Regions from separate parts of the Homo sapiens genome. Here regions 2 and 3 are each reported to be linked to region 1. Evidence: microRNA targets listed by miRTarBase, many of them from high-throughput screens and not tested one by one. Region 1 holds a microRNA gene; each other region holds the end of a gene's coding sequence.

Evidence for each region. The annotated mature microRNA hsa-miR-6715b-5p reads ACAGGCACGACUGGUUUGGCA and lies in region 1 at 1,280-1,300, shown strand. An mRNA with a match to its seed (bases 2 to 7 or 8) in the 3' UTR can be bound and repressed. Matches are read on the target gene's strand: a 7mer-m8 pairs with bases 2 to 8, a 7mer-A1 pairs with bases 2 to 7 and ends in A, and an 8mer does both.
Region 2: the mRNA of GABRB1 is a reported target of hsa-miR-6715b-5p. The part of its 3' UTR that is shown has no 7-base or 8-base seed match.
Region 3: miRTarBase lists PPP1R11 as a target of hsa-miR-6715b-5p. Seed matches in the 3' UTR shown: 7mer-A1 at 2,761-2,767.

Annotation. Positions count from the first base shown.
Region 1 is chr10:112,297,706-112,300,957 of GRCh38, reverse strand. MIR6715B (microRNA 6715b) reads left to right here and starts at 1,270; the gene lies at 1,270-1,346. TECTB (tectorin beta) reads right to left here. Exons shown (of 11, transcript NM_058222.3): 8 at 2,727-2,889; 9 at 1,394-1,466. It overlaps MIR6715A (microRNA 6715a), which reads right to left and starts at 1,346; the gene lies at 1,268-1,346.
Region 2 is chr4:47,425,578-47,428,823 of GRCh38, reverse strand. GABRB1 (gamma-aminobutyric acid type A receptor subunit beta1) reads right to left here. Exons shown (of 9, transcript NM_000812.4): 9 at 2,377-3,150. The coding sequence ends at 2,806. Among named protein-coding and RNA genes, the nearest start is that of COMMD8, 37 kb to the left of the region's middle.
Region 3 is chr6:30,068,910-30,072,161 of GRCh38, reverse strand. PPP1R11 (protein phosphatase 1 regulatory inhibitor subunit 11) reads right to left here. Exons shown (of 3, transcript NM_021959.3): 3 at 1,829-3,058. The coding sequence ends at 2,856. RNF39 (ring finger protein 39) reads left to right here. Exons shown (of 4, transcript NM_025236.4): 4 at 471-1,892. The coding sequence ends at 1,051. Among named protein-coding and RNA genes, the nearest start is that of PPP1R11, 3.3 kb to the right of the region's middle.

The sequences.
Region 1 (3,252 bases):
CTTCCCACAGGTTTTGCCCACCCTTCATGTCACACTATCCTTCAGGTCTCACTTGGAGATTGTCAGCAGAGCTCTTCTGCAAGCCCTGTACTAGGTTGAATCCCTTTGCTCCATTCAGGATGAATATCCCTTATCCAAAATGCTTGGGACCAGAAGTGTTTCAGATTTCAGATTTTTTTTTGGATTTTGGAATCTTTGCATTATACTAGTTGAGCATCCCTAACTGGAAAACCTGGAATCTGAAATCTAAAATGCTACAATGAGCATTTCCTGTGAGCATGACCTTTGAGCATCATGTGGGTGCTCAAAAAGTTTCAGATTTGGGAGCATTCGGATTTTGGATTTTCACATTAGTGATGATCAACTGTGCAACCATGGCACCAGCCCACTGTCACCCTCCTTAACAGTAATTTCTCTTTCCCTTAGTGTCTAACATCTCTCTCCTTGCTAGACAGTAAATCCCTTGAGGACAGGGCCTGCTTGGGTCACATTTATTTCTGAAATCCTAGTGCCCTGCCAGGCCAGGCAGTGCTGGATACTCAGTAAAGGTTTTTTGACTTGCACATGACATTCTCATGACATCTCATTTTTCCTTCCTTCCTTCCTTCCTTCTTTCTTTTCTTTTCTTTTTTCTTTCTCTTTCTTTCTTTCTTTCTTTCTTTCTTTCTTTCTTTCTTTTCTTTCTTTCTTTCTTTCTTTCTTTCTTTCTTTCTTTCTTTCTTTCTTTATTTCTTTCTGTCTGTCTGTCTGTCTCTCTTTCTTTCTTCTTTTTCTTTCTTTCTTTTTTTTTTTTTTGAGACGGAGTTTCGCTCTTGTTGCCCAGGCTGGAGTACAATGGCGCGATCTCAGCTCACTGCAACCTCTGCCTCCCAGATTCAAGTGATTCTCCTGCCTTAGCCTCCCGAGTAGTTGGGATTACAGGCGTGCCCCACCAAGCCCAGGTAATTTTGTATTTTTAGTAGAGGTGGGGTTTCACCATGTTGGTCAGGCTGGTCTCAAACTCCTGACCTCAAGTGATCTGCCCACCTCGGCCTCCCAAAGTGCTGGGATTACAGGCGTGAGCCACCGAGCCCGGCCCCATGACATCTCATTTTCTATTATTATTGTTCACTGCATGCTCTGTTTGGAAGCTCAGCACTTCCTGATTCTTTGGGGGTATTTGAATTTAGGGTGCAGTTAGAACTTTCAGAGTAGATAACAAACCTCAACTCCTTCGTTTGGCTTGAGCTGTTCCCCACCCCTGGCTGGAAGACTCCAGGAGCAGGTGAAGGTTGTGCCCACAGGCACGACTGGTTTGGCAATTCAGTAAAAATGCTCAAACCGGCTGTGCCTGTGGACGCAGCCCAGCGTGAACTCAACCGTTTGGAAAACAGAGGAAAACAGAGACGCTTACTCCGCAGGGAGAGCTCCACGACCAGGACTCCCCCGGTCTGGTCTCGCAGGAGGCGCTTCCGTTTATCGCAGGTCTGAAGACCCAGAGAGGCAGACAGGAGAGAAGCGGGGAAGGTGGGATGATGCGTGAGCAAAGGGGAGAAAAGAGAAAGAAAAGATATTTTAAAAAGGTCACAAATGGGGTGGAGTCACAATTCCCCAGTCAACAGAGATGAGTTACCTTTTTAAAAAATAACCCAGAAGACACACTGTTCATCCCTTCTCCAACTTGAATACAAAGAGAAAGCTTTACTTTGTTAACTCTTCAAGCCAGAGGGAATCCTTCTGGAAGAGGTCATTGAGTGTGGAAGGGATTGATCCCATTTCCTTTGATAAGGCTTCTACTTACCACTCTCACCACAATAATTAGAGAAGTGGACACTTGCAATTGTATTCTGGTTCATTTTCTTTTCTTTCTTTTTAAAAATATGGCATTGATACTTATCCTTTGATCAACTGTACAGTGTCTCTCCCCTCCTCTCCCTGGCTCTGCACTCTCTGGTTTCTTTCCCTTTTGCTGTTTGTGCTCATAAAGAACCATTTTCTGGCCAAATGAAACAACAGCAATAGAGATTATGACCTTATTTTTGTTGGTTACTATAGGCTATGTGGATAGCAGCCTCTTTGGAAACACCGAGGTCTCCAGTTGAAAGAGACCAGAAAGGAGAACAGTTTGAGATTTGGCATGTCTAAGTGTCTAAGTGGTGGTTCTCAGGCTTGAGTGAGCACCGGCATGACTGCTGGCTTGTTAAAGCACAGCCTGCCCAGGCCTTCCTCTCACGTGGTCAAATCAGCCATGATCCAGTGTCGGGAATTTCTGCAGCATCTCTCTGAAGTCACAGAGGTGAACCCTCGGGCTGTTCAGTCAAGACTAAAAACACCCACCTTTTGAGTTATTTCCACGGCCTGTCCCTGCCACCTAGACCTTGAATTTCCCTTGCCCTTTTCACTTCTTCCAAGTATTTCCAAGTCTGTTATCACTTTCATTTACCTACACTGCCCTCTGATGAGGGAAGGGCCATCATTACTTAACACACTTTGCTTAAGGATGAGAAAGCAGGTCCCAGCAGGTTAGGCGACACATGCCAGACCATGTGGGTTGTTGGAGGCAGGGCAGATAGGGCCCTGAGCATCTGCCCTCACGAGCATCTGCCCTTATACTCAGTGCCATTTCCTCCAGATGTCCTCAGCACACAGCTGCCCTGGCCTGGTTATGATCTCCCCACTCAAACTCCAGCTCCTCCAATACTGGCACCCTTTAGGTAACATTGTCCTTCTGGAGAGAGGCAGCTCACCACTGGGCAGGAGAGTTTCTCACTGTCGCAGATGAACGTCTCACAGTGTAACCACACCTTGGAGAGTTTGGGGATGTTCTGGAACCGGAAAGCATTGAATTGGAAGGTTGCCCTGTGATCTCTCCCATTCTCATGCACGAGGACGGTTTCATCCGTGGGGCAGCTGAGGCAGATGGGGAAAGAAGAGTGAACTGTCATCTCCTTGAACTCCAGCAAGAGCTGCTGAGCGATTTACACACAAGGCTCCCGAGGTGGTTATATGACCTCTAACCTTCCCAGGCATTTTGATTAGCAGCACCTCACTTGATCTTCACAACTGTGAGGTCAAGTTGATGAGCTAGGAGATGGGTATTACTGTCCTCATTCTATAGACAAGGTACGATGGGAGGGGAGTGACTTATAAGAGTCACACTTTTAGTAAGTTACACCTGTGTCCCAAAGAAAGAAAATCCCTAGGAGATAAGGCCCTCCGAGGACTGGAATATGTCCAGCCCTTGAGGGACATACAAAGTAAGGACAATGGCAC
Region 2 (3,246 bases), not on the chromosome of region 1:
ACAGCCAGAGAAGGAAGTTTTTTTTTTTTTCTATTCACTGTTCAGCCTGAAAGGGGAGGACTTGGCTAGGAGTGGGGCCAAGGAGGGAAGAATTTGGCCCACAGGTGTCCAGAAAGAAGTGGGGATAGAGGTCTTTAACCATAAATATTGCAGCTTCTCCATTCTTCTGGCTGCCACTGCCTCTAAAATCAGCTATTTACCAGGATTTTTATAATGCTGGCTGTGGCCCCTCTACTGCCCAGGAGGGCATATGGTGACACCATTTTGTGCCTGATGGGTAGATTCAGGCTTAATAAGTTTACATTTTACAAAGGTTAAGATATGAATTCAAAATGTTCTCTTTTTTTCTCAGAAGATGCTTTACATCTAAAACTACAGCATCAAAATCGTTAGATTTTTTAAAGACAAGATAAAAATATAATAATAAAAATACAAATATTCTCAATCTTTCCCAAGAATAATAATCTAAATAGATAAATAAAAATAAATTGTTTGTTAAGGAACATAGATTACAGATACTTCCTTTCTGATTTAGCATTTCATTCTTAAAAGCTTTTAAAAGAGCTTTGACACCCAGAATGATTCATTTTTATTAGGCATCAGCCAACAATTTTCCTTCCTGTGTTTAAGATAAATGGCTGCACAGTGGTTCCTTTGCGGTCATTACGGAATATTAACCTTACAATCACTGACATGGCCACATGCCACTCTATATGGCCATTTTATGATGGCAAAGCATCTCACCCTGCCAAGGGACTGAAGAGTTTCAAAATGGATGACTTCATACCCTAAGGCTGGAGATTTCCTTGACCAGGAAAGTGTGATAATACAACTAAAAATCTAAATAAAAATGTGGTCCCTATCATGAAACCACTGAGATCATTTTTTCCAGTTAAAGCAGAGTTTTTGTATATATATTATCTTCAGCCTTAACTATTCATTTATTTTAAGGTTCCCTTTTCCTCTTGCTTTCTAAAAGAATATCTTGTACCTTTCTCCCCTTCAGCTCATCAGTAAAAATTCAGCATCATCTGTCCGGTGAAGACTGTAATTTCCAGAAGCTGATGCTATTGTAAACATGGACCCCATCACAGTCTTAGGGAAAAAGCTAGATCATTAAGCCAGGCAATCGTCCCTATTATTACCTCAACCCTTATTTCACATTCATGGGTCAGGTCCCAAACCTCCTGCATCAGTGTTTGGTTAGCTTACAGTTTCATTCAGTCTTGCAAATGAACATACAGAATTCTTAGATACTGAGGTTGAAAAATAAAATGACAAGGTTTCAGTGATATAACATGGGAAGAATCTCAACTGTAGCTGGTTGGACATGTTTAGAATTGTGTTGGGCTACTGAAGGATGCCCCTTCTATGAGAACCATGACCAAGAGTAATCCACAAGCGGAGATAAAGCAGAGGAGCAATGACAGTGATTAATGAGTGTAGACAGGGTCTATTCTTTAGGGACTGGTGCATGTGTTGGAAGCTCCACTGCTTTTCTCATCGCTCTTGTTTTTATCTGTAGTTCTGCAATTTTCAAGATTTTCTTTAAAATGGAATTCTGGTCCTGAAGGGGAATGACATCAACATGGGTATTTGTGCATTTTCCAAAGCATTCATTCCAGTCTGGAATGCAGAGCTCAGAGAGCAGAGCCATGAAGTGCCAGTTGAGGCCTGTGTGACTAGCCTGTCACCATTAGATACTGCTCTCTAGAAGGCAAAGAAATATATACTATTTGATTTAAGATTTGGCAGTTCAGATAACTGCCCAGGCACCCTTTTCACAGCACATAAATCTTGCCTTCCTAATGGCAAGGGCAATATTTTTCTCAAGCAAAAATTGCTCACCATCCCCTTCCTCCCACACTCTCTGGAGCAGGAACTATGGAACTGGGGTGGCATGGCTTCCTGGCACAGCATCAGGGGGTTCCAGGCTGATGAGATGAATTCAGGGCTGCATGTTTGAAATGGCCAGTTAGAAAAATGGTCATTGCCTTCCAAGCTCCTTATTCTCAAGAAAAAAAGAAAAATGTTCTCAATGGCTACCAGGTCGACCAGGTTGGATTCTAATGTTAATTTAAAATTTGCCGGAAAGTCGAGAAAGAAGCATATTTCAGAATATCCAGCTTAATGGTGCAGTGAAGATGGCAGGTTGGGATTGCATAACCTTGACCAGCGCTTGTCCTTCCTTCCCTCTTCTTCTGTGGAGCTGTGGAGCCCTTTTACAACGGACATGGGAGAACTTAAGGATAGAGGGGACTCTTCCTTCCCTGTCTAAGCTCCTTTTTCTTTTGCCTTCTTCCTGGAAATCTGTAACTTGTCAATGGCTTTGTTTTTTTCTTCTGAGATCCTGGAAATTGTGTGTTTTTTTTTATGTTTTTTTTTTTTTTTTTTTGGCAGCATAAGTTTGTTATAGTTTACCAGGAAGCAGTGCAGGCGGACAGCAAGGTCCTCTTTTCATTTTCCCTAAAAAATAAATCAGTGAAATCCAGGGAAACTAGAAAAGACTGCTAAAGATCTACCTGTCTAACTTCTCTCTTTGTGTTTGTTTGTAAACATGGCAATTAATAGAGCTCTTAAAGAGCTGATAACCTGGACCACGGTAGACTGGAAAAATAATTTTTTTTTTGTTTTGTCTTTTTGAAGTAAACATGGTGCAGTAATAAAACTGATATGCAAGACCTAAAACCAATTGGATGGCTGAATCTCTTACCTCGAGAAACAGCAGTATCGCTGTTGGGGACCTGTAAGGTTAAAAAACAATAGAAGAGGAAAGTAGTCTAAATGGAACCATTAGAACAGACCTCAGTGTACATAGTAAAGCCAATAGACGACATTAAAAAGAGAAAAGGTGATGGGGAAAAACATTCGGGACCACTTGTCTATGGAATTCACATCAGTCAAGTCGGGGATCTTGACTTTGAGCTGGGAGGCACGCCTGCGGATGCGCCCCTTGCTGGGTACCCCGTGCCGGTCCAGGGCGCGCCCGTAGGCCTCGCGGCTGCTCAGGGGCTTGCGGTACTGGATGCTGGCGCTGTCATAGGAGTACATGGTGGCCTTGGGGTCGCTCACGCTCGTGAGCACTTCCGAGCCACTCGTCTCATTCCGGATTTCCAGGGTGCTGAGGAGAATGTTACCGTGGGCGTCGACCTGATGGCAAAAAGAACAGGCTCGGACACAAGTTGCAGGACCTTTGCCTGTTTTCATTAACCTGTTACTAATGATACCCCATAAGGCTCATTAAAC
Region 3 (3,252 bases), not on the chromosome of region 1:
TGTGCCCCTCCCATTACTTGAGGTTCCAGTATCAGTACGACTTTCTCTTTAGATGAACCTTCCCCATTTTGCTGACCCAGCTCCCATGCCCCACCCCAGATGATGCAGATTGAGGTATCAGTCCTTACTCCTCCCTCGAAGTCAGATCAGCCTCACTCTTCCTCCCCCAACCCCACAAACGAGACAACCTCTCATTTGATCTTCCTGCTGTGCTCCCTGCACTGGGCCAGTATGATCCTTCCCCAGGTCCAATTCTACAGAAGTGGTGCATCAGTACAAGGTCTGATATTGCCCAGGTCTGCTCTTCATATGCCTTCCTTCTTTTTGGTCCTGCAGTCGCCTTTTGAGCTGTTGTGTGGTCACTAGCTCTCAGTCTTTTACGTGATCTTCGTTGACTATTCTCCACCCTACCCCGCCTGTGATTTAGAAAACTCTCTCATGAGGTCCTCTCCCTGCCTCCCCGTCTCCAGCCGACCTGACCCTGGACCCTGGGACCGCACACCGCCGCCTGCTCATCTCCGCCGACCGCCGCAGCGTACAACTGGCCCCACCAGGGACGCCCGCGCCCCCTGACGGCCCCAAGCGCTTCGATCAGCTCCCAGCTGTGCTGGGTGCGCAGGGCTTCGGGGCCGGCCGCCACTGCTGGGAGGTGGAGACTGCGGACGCCGCCTCCTGCAGAGACTCTTCTGGGGAGGATGCGGACGACGAGGAGAGCCACTATGCAGTGGGCGCGGCCGGGGAATCAGTGCAACGCAAGGGCTGCGTAAGGCTGTGCCCTGCGGGGGCCGTGTGGGCCGTGGAGGGCCGCGGCGGCCGCCTGTGGGCCCTCACGGCACCCGAACCCACCCTGCTGGGCGGTGTTGAGCCCCCGCCGCGGCGCATTCGCGTGGACCTGGACTGGGAGCGGGGCCGCGTGGCCTTCTACGACGGCCGCTCACTCGACCTGCTTTACGCCTTCCAGGCGCCTGGCCCCCTGGGGGAGCGCATCTTCCCGCTGTTCTGCACCTGCGACCCTCGTGCTCCGCTCCGCATTGTACCAGCGGAAAGCTGAGTCTCGTCTCCAACTAGAAGTTTGGCCCGGCCACTGGCCCTGCAGCTGCTTTTTGGGGGTGGAATTCCCCACTCATTTCTGGGAACACATTCACACGCCCATTGCAGGAGTATTAATAGCAACCCACATTTTCGCCCCAAAATAATGAGACCTCACCTGGTCTCCACGTTTCCACGTCCCTGCTCAAAACCAAATCCATTCCTGCCTTCTGGCTCTCAGAATCTTCTCTCCCCTACAGCTACTACAGTACTTCCTGACTTCTCCCATTCAAACCATTCTAGGCCTGCAATGGGGAACAGGCCCTCCCCATCAGTATTGGTAAAGTGACCATGATTCCTACATAGAGGCTCTGCTGGTCAAATACTTGACTCCCACTCTTGCCACTCCTAGCTCCAGAAGGGCTCAGGGCCTTCCCCACAGATCTAAGGACTGGGCTACCCTGCCTGTCCACTGAGGTTTCTCCTAAAACAAGAGGCTTGACTCTGGTCTGGGCCCTGTGGCCCTCTGGGAAGCTTTGTACCTCTTTTGCAGGATCTGGGGGTGGGGAGGGACAAGCTAGTTCCCCAACCTCCTATGACTGCTTTCTATGCTCACAGCCTTTTTTCCATAAGAACCTTCTTGAAACTTCTCCCCGCACATACTCACGGAAAGGAACCAATGGTGCTATTTCCCCTCTCTCCTCCTCAACCTGGGAATACTTCAGACATCTCCAAACTCATCCTTGTGTATAGTCTCACACCCTTCCCCATAAGTATAAATGGGCCCATATTTAACACATTTTGTGATTTTGGGTTATTTATTTTGTGCATCTGTGGCAATAAATGAGATCTCAGTGGTGGTATGGATTTGACTGATCTCTGTAACTGTGTATGGCAAAAGGACCGGAAAATGAAAACCGGATCCCAGTAAGGGGTAGAGAGGGGCCAAGAGAACTGAACATCTGGGCTGCCGGAGAAATCAAAGTCTAGGAAGTAAGAGGTAAGAGTGTACTACAGGGGACATACCCCAATCTCTTTGCTCCCTCCCTCTTCCTTCCTCTCCCAGAGACCCAGGTCCCTGGGACTATATTGGATCTGTCTCTGAAGCTGAAAAACAAAAGGCAGAGGAGACAGTCGGCTCTAAGTGACCAATCTCAAGCCAGCTTTGTCAGAAATCCTAAATAACAGGAGAAGGGTGGGAAGAAAGGATATGATTATTTCTTATTCCATTTTCCATAAGAGGTGAGAATGACAAGGACCTCTTTTCTAACTCCTCTTGAGGGTGTGAGAAGGGTTAGCAGGAGGAGAAGGGCTGGGAGCTCTGAGGTCTCCTGTAAGACCTCATATCTCACAGGCAAGGACTAAGAATTAGGATTAAATATTTTAGTGGGATAGCTCTAAACCAGGATTAGCAAGCAAAGTTAGGGCGCAAATTCCTGGAATCTGACTGGGACCCTGGCAGTGAAAGCTGGGACTGTTGAAAACCCAATTTAAGTGTTCGCTACTCATGTTGAGAGTGCAGGGCCAAGATAACTAGATCCCAGGACAGGCAGTTTGGCAGTGAGAACAAAAGGAAGACACTGGGACCAAGGTGCCTAGATCCCTCGAGAGAGAAGGGTGGGTATTGGGAGGAAAAATGAGGACTGGGGAAACCCAGGAGGCTGGGTTCTGGAATAGCAGCAAGTCAGAATTTCAGGATCTCTGTTCGTCCTCCTCTTCCTCTTCCCTCTATCAGGCAGAAGAGAGGGAAGGAGGGGGCTGGAGAAGTAGCCACATGGATACATTTAGGGCCAGACAGACACAGGAATGCTGGAGGAGAGAGGGATTTAGTGCTGCATTGGCCCTGGAGGGGGCTGGGAAGGGTCAGGAGGCTGGGGAGGGGTGGTGGGGGTCGGTCCTAGGGTTGCACGACGCCGTCCTTTGCGGTGGCCACGTACACAGTGTGTATGACCACAGCCCTCTTCTTCCTCCTCATCACTTTCCGTGGAGCTCTCGCCAAAGGCCCGAGGTTTCTCATAAATACAGCAGCCTAGATTTAGAGGGAGGAGCCCAGTTAAAGAGGAGGAAGGGTAAGATATATAGTCAGTTCCATTCCCACTCAAACTCAGTGAAAATTCCTATTTTCTCCTACCTTCCAGGATCCAGCTTCCCCAGGCCCACCCTCTGGGACTCAGGCCCCACCCCTCTTGTCCTCTTAGAGAGCCACGAATTCAAAGCCCCACT